Linked DNA regions of Homo sapiens. The protein of the gene in region 1 purifies or fractionates together with the protein of each later gene. This does not show direct contact. Each region holds a gene or a part of one and is shown in the gene's direction. Other genes may lie near its edges.

Region 1 (3,500 bases):
AATTTTTTTTGGCAGGAATACATAGATGGTACTGTTTCCTGTTGCATTAATTGAGAAGGCACATAATGTTTGATTGTTGTACTTTTAGGGATACTAAGATTTAATGGTTGGGTTTACACGGTGACGACCTTCTCTTTTTATTGTAGAGTTTCCTGCAGTCTTCTCTGTGGGATGCTAAAACCATTGATGATTGTTGCCTGAACCAATTGTTTTAATAGGCGTTGCAAAATGACTGTTTTCTGTATTTTCTTTCTTTTTTTTTTTTTTTAGCAAACTTACTTTTTAATCTTGTCACTACCTCTGCATTTATTAACAGATGTTAACAGAACTCCTCGTATGCCAGAGCTGTTTGGTTAACTTGAAATATGCTTCATGTCAGAAAAGCAGAATAAATAAAGAGAAAAATAAGCATCAATTTTCAGAGTAGTGAATTGGTGCCCTAGCAACCTCCATTGGTATACAGTGAATTTTGTTTCTCTCTTCTTTTTTTATTTTCCTTAAAAATATCTGGTAGTAAGGAGGATCTCTCTAAGTATCATTATGAACTCATGACTTTTTATATATTAATTTTAATAAATCAGAGTCATTATTCCTTCTGTTTCACTATGTCTCATCTTTGGCCATTGGGAGCCCCTTCAGGCTGGCTTCTGTCTCCTTTTGATAGAACCCCACTGGCCTTTGATAGCTTCATTACTTTTTGGCTGAAGAAAATATTCCACATTGACCTTAATCCATTTCTTGCCCCAGACATGGAATCATCTATTTTTCTAAGATTACTTAGTTATTTTTAGTGGGGAATGATATTTAGAAATACATGTTAGGTGCTATGTATTACTGGGTTGTCATTTCTTTTAAGCTTTTTCAGTGGACATAGCTAGAAACTATGTATTTTTAAAAAGGAAAAGATCATGAGTTTACATTGATATTTCTAAATAAAAATTTAAGATTTTAAGCTTTTCTTTTGTAAGGTTAGATGTTTTATTACAATATGTTCTTGAACTCCTGGCCAGGGCTGAAGGCAAGAGGATTGCTTGAGGCCAAGAGTTTGAGACCAGACTGAGCAACATAGTGAGACCCCATATCTATTTTTTTTTTGAGACATGGTCTCGCTCTGTTGTCCAGGCTAGAGTGCAGTGGCTTGATCATGGCTTGCTATAACCTCAAACTCCTGGGGTCAAGTGATCTTTCCATCTCAGTCCCTCGAGTAGCTGGGACTACAGGCCTGTGACCCTGCACCCAGCTAATTTTTTAATTTTTTGTAGAGACGGGGTCTTGCTTTGTTGCCTAGGCTGGTCTTCAACTCCAGGGCTTGTGATCCTCCTGCCTAGGCCTCCCAAAATTCTACGATTACAAGCATGAACCACTGTGCCCAGCCGTGAGATTCTATCTCTAAAAGAAATTTTAATACATTTTTAATAAAGTATACAGGAGGATGTGCATAAGTTATATGCAAATACTATACCATTTTATTAATATATAAGGGATTTGAGCAACAAATGGAACCAATCCTTGCAGATACCTAGGGACCACTATATCCTGCCTTTTCTGTATTTGTTGCCTGTATTATATCACAAGCCTCCAAGAAAAAAAAAATCACAAGCCTTCAGTTATCTTGATGCCCAATGTAGTGTAACCTTTTCTTTCTCATTCTTGTACCTTGTACTGCAGCACACGGTTACATTCAATTTAGTGTTTCATATTCATTCACTCTAGTATTTCATTACTTCGTACTTCATTATTCTGTGTTGGTTTGTATTTGTTTAATGGGTTTATGTCTTCTTTCAATACATTTGTAATTTCCTGGAGATCAAGACTTTTCCATCACTGTAGGAGGTTTTTAATGTTTTCAAATTAATGTATGAGAAAGGAGGCACAGATATTCTATTAAAAGGATTAAAAAATAAAAACTTTGTCTATGTTTCTAGAATGTAGCTTTAAGACACACTCAAGGAAAATACTTTCAGATGGTCATCACTTTTGGTGCCTGGCCTCAATTCTTATTTGGCTTAGCTTCATTATTGGTGGCCTAGAACTTGGCTGGTAAGTAGGAGAGTTGGAAGCAAGGCTGGCTGCCTGGCAAAACCTACTTATGTTGACTTGGATTGCTTTTGATCTTATTTGCTATTTTATCAACTATTTTTATACTCCTAAATGAGTAGAATTTCTGTGGTTTTTATAGAAGAATGAGAACCAGAAAAGCCAGACTATTTACAACACTTTAAAAATGTGACACTAGTCCTATAATAGTACTGAAGCTACTTGTTATGAGACTGTGTTAATTTGTTTTATGATTAGCGTAGGAAGAAGCAGCTGAGGTGATATGTCCCATCTGTCTGCTTTCCTCTTCCTTCTCTTTCACCCTCAAAGAAGATGCTGGAGATTCTTCAGGGAAGAATAAAAAGATTAAATTTAGAATATATTTGTATTTGTGTTAAGAAAATGTTTCTTGGGTTTGCTTATAGGTCCTGTTATTGCCTTGGAGTTTAATGGGGATGGTGCTGTAGAAGTATGTCAACTTATTGTAAACGAGATATTCAATGGGACCAAGGTACAAGATTTTATTGACTGTATTTCAATCTAACTTTTCATTTCATCTCCTTTTCCTTACAGTCAAATAATACTTTAATACTTTTGTCCCTAATGTTGCTTGGAATTTTTGGGGTGTGTGTGTGTGTGTGTGTGTGTGTGTGTTTAAAGCAGATCATGATTTTTAGAACCTTTGATAAATAATTGGGAACTAAGCTGTGATTTTTTTCTTGCCAAACTAAACTTTAATTGTTTAAAATAATTACAAAATAAGAATCTATTTATTAAAAACCTTCTATAGTATATGTTTCTAAAGTAAAAAGTCTCATCAAATGTCTTTTCAAGTCTTTGCATTTTTAAAAATACTGATTTGTTGAAAATATTTTATTTCTAAGATTATAGTCTTTAGATGGACGATTCTGTTGCCCAGGGTTCATTTTTACGCCCAGGGTTCATTTTTACTTGCTTCAGTAATGCTTCACCAAAAATTGAACTTCAGATATACATAGAAATCATCACATGTAGGCCGGGCGCGGTGGCTCACGCCTGTAATCCCAGCACTTTGGGAGGCCGAGGTGGGCGGATCACGAGGTCAGGAGATCGAGACCATCCCGGCTAAAACGGTGAAACCCCGTCTCTACTAAAAATACAAAAAAAAATTAGCCGGGCGTAGTGGCGGGCGCCTGTAGTCCCAGCTGCTTGGGAGGCTGAGGCAGGAGAATGGCGTGAACCCGGGAGGCGGAGCTTGCAGTGAGCCGAGATCCCGCCACTGCACTCCAGCCTGGGCGACAGAGCGAGACTCTGTCTCAAAAAAAAAAAAAAAAGAAATCATCACATGTAGGCATTTTCTAAATATATTGATGAAGTTGCTGTATCTAAGAATTGCAGACATAAATAAATTTAAAACCAAACATAGAGGATTACATTAGCAAATCTATAATTGACTACTTTTTGATAAATACCTGGGAGGACAT
Region 2 (3,500 bases), on another chromosome or scaffold:
AGTGAGCTGGGACAGCGCCACTGCACTCCAGCCTGGGCGACAGAGCGAGACTCAGTTTCAAAATAAATAAATAAATAAGAATGTATTTAACTTTAAAAAACAGAGACAGGGTCTCACTAGGTTGCCCAGGCTGGTCTCAAACTCCTGGGCTCAAGTGATCCTCCTGCCTCAGCCTCCTAAGGTGCTGGGATTAGAGACATGAGCCACTGCACCCAGCCAACCACCGTGCTTTTAAAGAAGGACTCTAGGAGGGTAGTGATCTTATCCAGTGTGTTCCTCACTTTATTTCTAACCTCTAGAATATTATAGTGTAGGCTTGGTAAATACTGATGAGTTAAAATACAAAGCAGGCCAGAGAAGTGGAATACATTGTTGATCCTTTGAGAATTAGTGGTTTTGATAATGAATGTGAATTAGTCATTATAAAGATAAACTTTTACTTGTATGGTAAGCATTCTGAAATATCTTTGAACATAGAAGCCACTTGTATGTAGGAGAGAAAATTAATGAAGTTGTATCCCTTCTTTTTTTTATAAATTACAAGGATTATATTTAGAGACTCCAAGAACTTTAAAAGGTACATGAGCATTGGCTGGATTTCTTTATGAATAAGGGGAGCAAAATTGTCTGTGGAAGTTAAGTACCTGTATTAAGCAAATTAACTCTTTTGTTGGAAATAGAGGCACTATTTAAATCTTGGGAAACACCAACTTGCCTGATAAAAAGTAAAGACCCTTTTGCCTTTCCTCAGGGAACATATTAAAAACTATTTAAAAATGTTGATGTCTGTTAGTAGCCAACCCTGGAAAGTCTCTGGTGAAATGTCATAGGCTTCACTTGTCTCATCTTCCTATTTCAGAAACAATTCTGAGCTCTTCCAAGATAGGAAAGCACACTGCGAGAGTCCTATAGATGGCAGTGTTTGCTTTACTCTGAAAATGTTTTTACAGGTCATCATCAAGAATATGGGCTGGAATCTCGTTGGTCCTGTTGTTCGATGCCTTTTGTGTAAAGATAAAGAGGATAGTAAAAGAAAAGTTTATTTTTTGATCTTTGATTTATTGGTAAAGGTAAGTTAACAAAACAAGGTTCTCTTTATCATAACACACAGCAGTATTTTATAATTCCCTTTAATGTTTATTGTTTGGTAAGAAAGCTTTTGGTTCATGAAAGTACATGCAGAAAGGAACTCGTTGGAGAAAAGACCCAGTCTTATTGATTGGATAGGCAATTCCATTTCAGGATTTCCCAAATTTTCTGGATAAAAGAATTGTCTAACCTCATATTAACCTCATATCGGACCCATTGATTCAGCATCTCCAGGGAGAGACCTGGGAAGCTATATCTTAACAAGTAGCCTTATCGTATAGATGTGGAATACAAGCTTTAGAGAGGTAGTTCAAGGTCACATTTATCTTTTGGCAACATTGGAACTAGATTAAAATCTCAGTCCTCTTTCCTTTGTGGTATGTTCCCTAAAAGAAAATGGAAGGCCTAGAATACAAGTGATTAAAATTGAAGTAGGAATAGGGTAGAATACAGATCAGTTGTGACTAACAACCTTAGAAAGCGACCCTGGGTAAAAGGCTAGTAGAGTTTACAGTCAATATTTGATGGCCAAGAAAGATAAATTCTGAGAAAAAGTATATTATAAGAAACTGTTTAGTGATCAGTGCAAATATACCCAAATATATATTGGAAGGAGAGCTCCATCTGTATGAGTTATTGACTATGGGAGCTGGGAGCTTTTAAAAAACCAGTCAAGTGAGATGATAAGATATGGCCAGTCAGAAAGCAATGCAAAGTTTTACCTGTTCAAAAAATACAAAAGAGATTCCAGACTAGTCTAAATAGGCTTGCAGCATGGGATTGAAAGGTCCCACCTGCTGGAGCCCCTGAGAATCTGTTAAGGCAATTTCAGAGTGGACAGGTGAAGCTCAAAGGAAACCTGAGCCTAAAGATCCATTGACTTCTTGCTTTTTAGTTTTATAGTTACTTGACCATCACAGATTCTGTGTTTTGCTCATGCATATTTTTTCAACAATTGTATAAATAATTTTAATGTTAAGCAAAAACATAATTGTATAATATTTTGTCGATACATGCCTTCTTAAAAATAGTAATAATGTGGCTTTAAATACAACTTGTATTAAACAGGTTCAATTGTGAATATTTTTATAGTTATGCAATCCAAAGGAATTATTGTTGGGTTTGCTTGAACTGATTGAAGAGCCCTCTGGAAAACAGATATCCCAAAGTATTCTTCTTTTGCTTCAGCCATTACAAACAGGTAATGAGAATTTTGATATCAGAGTACTTCTTGTTGTATCTCTAAATGCCTTGATGGTTACCTCAAAATGTCAATACTACACCAAAGTAAAGTTTACAGCTAATTAGTGAGTACTCTGCTTAAACCAATAATAGCAATGCCAATGTGAATACTGCTGCTCATAGAAAGATTATAGTATCTGGCCAGAGTGGGTACCCAGTAAATATTCTGTTGAATGTCATACTATTTTTCATGTGCTATATTGAAAACTATACCTTTTTGCCTAACCTTCCTATCTGCTGCTTAAATCTAGAATTTTCTCTCTAAACATGTTTCAAGGGTTACCTCTGTGGTGTCTGCAGTACTAAATCTGATAGCATTATGGTAGTCTGGAAGAGTATCAGGCAAGGCATTGCTCAGCCTCTGCTTTGGGAGGTTGGATTGGGCATAGCAAAGCTACTACTGAAGAATGAAACGAGGAGATATGGGATGATAAGGCTCCATGGCTGAGTGCAGTAACAGTATTGGTAGGTAATGGGTCTTAGCAACCAAGGCAGACAGTATCCATAGGAAGAGGTTATTTTTCATTTTAGGAAATTCGTTTATCTCACAATCTGATAGAGGGACCTAGAATCAGAAATTAAATTTGTTTTAAATATGAATGCCTGCCAGCTTCATACTACCTGTAATATTCAGTCTTCTAGGGAAAAAAAATCTAATAATACCACCTCCTATTTGTGTAGTGCTTTATAGTTTACAATACACTTATATTTTGTGCTTATAACAACCCAAAAACATGGAAAGAACATGTTTCTGTCTTAAGTACATAGCCTGTTACACATAGTCTGTTATAAACATAACCTAAACAGCATTTCATGGCAAGATGCTGTATTATTTTATGCACAACTAAGAAGAAAAAAACACTGCCAATTAGACTGTGATGTGTCATCTTGATTCAAGAGTTGTTAAAATGTGGGAGGAGGAAGTGTCTTATAATTCCACATTTGCCGAATTTCTTGTCCCATGTTTAGCATACTTGATGAGCGACAACTTGATCTCTGTTTTAGTGATTCAGAAACTTCATAACAAGGCATATTCAATTGGATTAGCATTGTCTACCCTTTGGAATCAGCTATCTCTTCTTCCTGTTCCATACTCAAAAGAACAAATACAAATGGATGACTATGGCCTTTGTCAGTGTTGCAAGGCCTTAATAGAGTTCACTAAGCCT
Region 3 (3,238 bases), on another chromosome or scaffold:
GCCACCAACCTGTGCTTTGCGGAGCGGAACGTGTACACGTCAGAGGTGCTGGCCGTGGTGATGCAGCAGCTGATGGAGCAGAGCCCCCTGCCCATGCTGCTCATGAGGACCGTCATCCAGTCCCTGACCATGTACCCCCGCCTGGGGGGCTTCGTCATGAACATCCTGTCCCGCCTCATCATGAAGCAGGTAACCCATCCCCGGCCACCCCGCCTCCAGGCTGCAGACAGCAGCTTCTAGCCTGCTTGCCCTCCCCTTCCCCCGTCTGACCCCGGAGGGAGCCCGGTGGAGGACAGCAGGCTCTGCTCTGCCTCCTGCCAAGAAAATAGCAGTGCTCCAGGGTGTATGACTGGGCCAGCTCCCAGGTGATGAGGGAGGGCAGCTGGGTGGTAGGAGCTGTGGTAACCCTCAAGGGGTGTGCACCCGGGAGAGGCATGGCTGCTCCTCACCCTCCACCGCTGTGTGCCCGGCCAGGATGCATCCCAGAGCTGAAAAATGGCCCAGTTTTTTAAGAGGTGCTAGAAATTTGGGCTTTAGAAATACCACGATAAGGCCAGGTGTGATGGTTCACACCTGTAATGCCAACTCTTTGGGAGGCCGAGACAGGAGGACTGCTTGAGCCCAGGAGTTTGGGGCTGCAGTGAGGAAGAAACGCGCCACTCACTGCACTCTAGCCTGGGCGGCAGAGTAAGACCATCTCTCAAAAAAAAAAAAAAAAAAAAAAAAAAAAGAGAACAAAAAAACCAAACCCCGCAGGACTAATGTCGCCCCCTGGAGGCTGCGGTGAGAATGTACATGTGACCCAGGACAGGTCCCGGCACCGGCACGGACCTCCGCTGTTTAGCAGGGGTAATTTCGCCCCCTGGAGGCTGCCGTGAGAATGTCATGAGAGGTGCTCCCGCAGCACTTAGCCTGGGCCTGGCCCAGGGGGAGCTCTGGTAAAAGGCGGCTGAGTTTTCTTCCACCCCCTTCCCAAGTTGCCCTCGTGGTCCAGCCGCCTGGATCGGGAAGACAAAGGCCTCTGGAGGGAGGTCGGGGCTGCTTGTTGCCCATCCAGAGGAATCTTGGATGGTGGGATTTGGGCATGGTCTTGGCAAGGTCTTTCTCCCAGTGTCAAGGCTCGGGGGGATGCCTGTGTGCCTCTCCCGACGGCTCCCTCCCTCCCTGGTTCAGGTGTGGAAGTACCCCAAGGTGTGGGAGGGCTTCATCAAGTGCTGCCAGCGCACAAAGCCCCAGAGCTTCCAGGTCATCCTGCAGCTGCCGCCCCAGCAGCTGGGAGCCGTCTTTGACAAGTGCCCAGAGCTCCGGGAGCCCCTGCTGGCCCATGTCCGCTCCTTCACCCCCCACCAGGTACCCCTTCCCCCCACCAGGTACCCTTTCCCCCCACCCAGGGTGTGCGGTGGGCGGCCCCCTGGGTCCCTCTGGTTGGTGGGGACTGGATGGAGGCGGACACAAGAAGGCCCTGCACTGCTGGGAGTTCTGGAGGGTTAGGGCCCCCGGACCTGAGGTGTGCAAATGGGGTCTCTGTGCCAGAGCTGCCCCCAGCGCCCCCTTCCTGCTCTCCACCCAGCAAGCTCACATCCCTAACTCCATCATGACCATCTTGGAGGCCAGCGGCAAGCAGGAGCCAGAGGCCAAGGAGGCGCCTGCGGGGCCCTTGGAGGAGGTGAGGGCCCTGCAGCCCACCCATCTGGATCCCCAGACTCCCACCCCCTACCCCAAGCCAGCAAGGCTCACCATGGCCTCCTCCTGACCCCGAGAGACTCAGGCCACCCCTGCCTCTGGGCCACCCGTCTCCCAGGGGATGCTCCTGCTGGGAGTTGGGGGTCTGGGGGACAACTGCCCCTTCCTCCCCATGCTCTTGGTGAAGAACTCAAAGACCACCTCAGGGTGGTTCCTTCTCTTTCCGGCCGTCCTCTGAGCCACCCACCTCTGAGCTTCTGTGTGGCCCTCCCTATCCCCAGGATGATCTGGAGCCCCTGACCTTGGCCCCGGCCCCAGCACCCCGGCCCCCTCAGGACCTCATCGGCCTGCGACTGGCCCAGGAGAAGGCCTTAAAGCGGCAGCTGGAGGAGGAACAGAAGCTGAAGCCGGGAGGAGTGGGAGCCCCCTCCTCTTCCTCCCCCTCTCCCTCTCCGTCGGCCCGGCCAGGCCCGCCCCCGTCTGAGGAAGCCATGGATTTCCGGGAGGAGGGGCCTGAGTGCGAGACCCCGGGCATCTTCATCAGCATGGATGACGACTCGGGGCTGACCGAGGCCGCGCTGTTGGACTCTAGTCTCGAGGGCCCCCTACCCAAGGTAGGGAGAGCAGCCTCCGCTGCGAAGGAAGAAGCCGGATCTGGGCCGGGGTGAAGGTGGGGGAGGAGGGGCCATCAGGGGGCAGGGCCTGAAGGGGAGCGTGGAGGTGACCGCGCCCTCCACCCGGCTGCCCTTTCCTTCCCCGGTCACCAGGAGACGGCAGCGGGCGGGCTGACCTTGAAGGAGGAGCGGAGCCCCCAGACCCTCGCACCTGTTGGAGAAGATGCTATGAAGACTCCCAGCCCGGCTGCCGAGGACGCCAGGGAACCCGAGGCCAAGGGGAACAGCTGACGGGGCTCGAGGGGGAAAGGGGGTGGGACAGGGACTCGGGGCTGGGGGACGGGGCGGGGCTTGACCTGCGGGTGCTTTGCCTTAAAAAGAAATAAAAGATGTGAACTTGGGCAAGTTACTGAAAAGAAAAAAAAAAAGGGATGGCGGGCCTGGGGCGCGGGTGCCGTCTCGAGTCTGGCGCGACGTCCACCGTGGGGCTGCGCGGGATCGGGAGTGCGCGCCCAGAGCCTGCGCGGAACCCACCCTGGCCCGCTCCCCGCGCCCTCCACGGGTAACGGCCCCCTCTCTCGGTGCTCAGAAACCGGCGGTGTCGACAGGTGGCTCTCGCTTGGCCTCCTTGTCTGCAAGCCTTTCTCCTAGAGATCTGTGCCTCCTGGCGAACCATGGGAGACCTGCCGCCCTACCCTGAGCGCCCTGCCCAGCAGCCTCCGGGCCGGAGGACTTCTCAGGCCTCCCAGAGGCGGCACAGTCGGGACCAAGCTCAGGCCCTGGCAGCGGACCCCGAGGAGAGGCAGCAGATACCTCCAGACGCCCAGCGAAACGCCCCTGGTTGGTCACAGAGGGGCAGCCTGTCCCAACAGGAGAACTTGCTGATGCCCCAGGTCTTCCAGGCTGAGGAAGCCCGGCTGGGTGGCATGGAGTACCCATCT
Region 4 (2,331 bases), on another chromosome or scaffold:
GGCATTCTTGGAGGTCCAAGAGGGGCAGCGCCACCTTGGGCCAGGCTCCTCTCCAGCAGCCTTGGTATGGGGTGGGGGTGGGAAGACCCCTGATGCAGCCTGTCCTCTGGGTGTGGGGGTGGAGGAGAGGGCTCCAGGGGACCCAGCCAGCCTTGACCCTGGAGGAAAGTCAGGTGGGCTCAGAGAGAGCCCTCAAATCTGGGCCCTGGGTCAGGGTGGGGTCAAGTCCAGCCTTGAAGAGAATGGACTCTGGAATCTGACGTCTGGGTTTGAATCCAGCTTCCAACACTCACTGGCTGTGTGACTTTGGGCAAGATAACTTATCCCCTTGTCCCCATGTGTCATTGGAGATAAACTACCCACCTACCAGATTGTTGTACCATGCTGGGCAAACACTAAGTGCTTAATAATGGTAGCCCACTGCTCATGTCGTGTCGTCTCCTGTCTTGATACCTGAAAACTCAAGGGGCCCTGTTGTGCTTGGAGGGGGGTGCCGTTCCCACAGGATATTCTGTGAAGGGTGTCCCTGGAGCTGGGCCTCCAGGTGGCAAGCCCCAAGCCACCCCGGCAGGTGCCACTGGCCAGAGTTGAACTGAGGTGTTGAGTGGAAAGTGCCTCCCCACCCCCATCTGCCACAGTAGTATGGATTTCCTTCATGAGATGGGGCTCCTAAAATGCCTGAAATGTGTATGCTGTTGGAGAATTGATGTGTATGATTTATTGAACTTTGCACTCATTTAAATCTCATTTAATCCTCCAACAACGCAAGATGAAGAAGCTGAGGCTTAAAGAGATTAAGAAACATCCTATCCCCTTTACTCCCACCAAAATAAATACATTTGCCCTATTCTCCCAAATGGTGAGAGGTAGATCCAGGACTTGACCCCAGATCCCACCCACTCAACCCTGGAGCTGCAGTCTCTACCCCTTCTAACACATGTGATTCTGTTTCATGTCCTGTTCCATCGGTAGAGTTACACACTTTCCTGAGACTTTATATGGTGGTGCTGCTGGGTGCCAGCCCTTCTTCCCTCCAACAGTGGCAGTAACCACTGTTGTGTGTTGGTGTCAAGGAGTGGGGACACCCTGAAGGAATCCGCCTTTTCTAGAGCTCTCGCTCCATTCCCTACATCGAGGCTGAAGTGCCCTGTCTCGGGTCCTTGTTTTTAGGCCTCGTTTGAAGGAGGGGAAGAAACCAGGTTCGTTGGGCGTGACCTTGGCTCAGCTCGTCTGTGAAATTGGGGCCGCAGACTTAGTTTGCGGGTCCCTGCTAAATTCCTCTCCCTCTTCCTGGGATTCCCATCCATGTATTGCCAGCTACATGTAGAGTGGAGAGGAGAGGTTTTTCCTGCAGGGCCTTCCAGAGAAAGGATTCTTGGCCAGAGGAAATCACAGCCTATAAGATCAATATCCTGATAGAATCCCGGGCCAGGTGTGAGAGGGGAGAGCTCACTCACACCAGCCTGACAGTCTTGGGGCAGAGCGCCCCATAGGCCTCTGCAGCCCCATCACTGCCTCATTCTCCCTCAGGTGCCAAGGAAGCTCCAGGGTGGGCCCAGTATCCTTCCACAGCATCCCTCCTCTTCCCCTTCAACACCCCTTTCACCCCTCCCTCCACCACCTCTGAAAGGTGCTCCTTGGGCAGGGCGATAGGATTCCCACCCCTAGCTTTAAGAACTAAACCAAACTTCAAGAGGAGCAATTTAATCTTCATACCTGACTCCTTGTCCCTCCTCAGGCATGCTGTTGTGCAGGACAGAGCCCTGGCTTCTCCTGGATGTCACACCTGGCCTGTCTCTGACCCTTGCTTTCCCTTTCTCTGCTGCCCTCAAGGGTCATTCACACCCAAGAGGGTAAGAAGCTGCCCTCTCATCCCTTCCTCTCCCACCCTGGGCCTCTGCCCTCTGCCTGGCCCCAGCAGCACAGTCTTCTCCATAGAGAGGGGCTGGGCCATGGGACCCCAGTTCCTGGGGTCTCGGTGACACAGTTCACTGTTTGCTGCAGAGGAGGCCCCACTCGCAGCCTTGGCCTCTGCCCTGCAGAAGAATTCCCTGTAACTCACTCACCAATGGCCGTGGGAGCCAGTGGCCTCGGCGAGGGTCAGTTGGACTGCATAGCTGCCGGCTGAGTCTCTCTGGCCACCCTCACTGGCCCCATCACTCCAGGTTGCACTGCTGCCCAGGGGGTTTGTGCCAGGCCTGGGTCACAGTGGAAGAGAGTCTGGAAATCACAAGGCAGAGGAGGAGACCTTTGCCAATGTGAGAGAACAAAGTTAAGGGGCAGTCCATGGGGGCATTGACCTTACTTAGGTGAGGAGGACTCAGGGAACAT

Evidence for each region. The genes of interacting proteins can lie anywhere in the genome.
Region 2: the proteins of RP2 (region 1) and GLMN purify together in Homo sapiens (affinity purification with mass spectrometry; 3 studies listed by BioGRID and IntAct, with this or other methods). This does not show direct contact.
Region 3: the proteins of RP2 (region 1) and SYMPK purify together in Homo sapiens (affinity purification with mass spectrometry; 3 studies listed by BioGRID and IntAct, with this or other methods). This does not show direct contact.
Region 4: the proteins of RP2 (region 1) and QSOX1 purify together in Homo sapiens (affinity purification with mass spectrometry; 3 studies listed by BioGRID and IntAct, with this or other methods). This does not show direct contact.

What each region holds. Positions count from the first base shown.
Region 1 is NC_000023.11:46,875,043-46,878,542, forward strand, and holds part of RP2 (protein XRP2), read left to right. Parts: intron 1-2,462; coding exon 2,463-2,548; intron 2,549-3,500. UniProt on the Homo sapiens protein: Acts as a GTPase-activating protein (GAP) involved in trafficking between the Golgi and the ciliary membrane.
Region 2 is NC_000001.11:92,288,988-92,292,487, reverse strand, and holds part of GLMN (glomulin), read left to right. Parts: intron 1-950; coding exon 951-1,070; intron 1,071-2,157; exon of another isoform or gene 2,158-2,181; coding exon 2,182-2,290; intron 2,291-3,336; coding exon 3,337-3,500.
Region 3 is NC_000019.10:45,814,910-45,818,147, reverse strand, and holds the end of SYMPK (symplekin), read left to right. Parts: intron 1-1; coding exon 2-189; intron 190-1,173; coding exon 1,174-1,350; intron 1,351-1,533; coding exon of another isoform or gene 1,534-1,570; coding exon 1,571-1,666; intron 1,667-1,964; coding exon 1,965-2,297; intron 2,298-2,450; coding exon 2,451-2,588; 3' UTR 2,589-2,738; downstream 2,739-3,238. Other genes in the region: RSPH6A (radial spoke head protein 6 homolog A), read left to right, coding at 2,972-3,238. UniProt on the Homo sapiens protein: Scaffold protein that functions as a component of a multimolecular complex involved in histone mRNA 3'-end processing. Specific component of the tight junction (TJ) plaque, but might not be an exclusively junctional component. May have a house-keeping rule.
Region 4 is NC_000001.11:180,199,869-180,202,199, forward strand, and holds part of QSOX1 (sulfhydryl oxidase 1 isoform a precursor), read left to right. Parts: 3' UTR 1-2,331. UniProt on the Homo sapiens protein: Catalyzes the oxidation of sulfhydryl groups in peptide and protein thiols to disulfides with the reduction of oxygen to hydrogen peroxide. Plays a role in disulfide bond formation in a variety of extracellular proteins.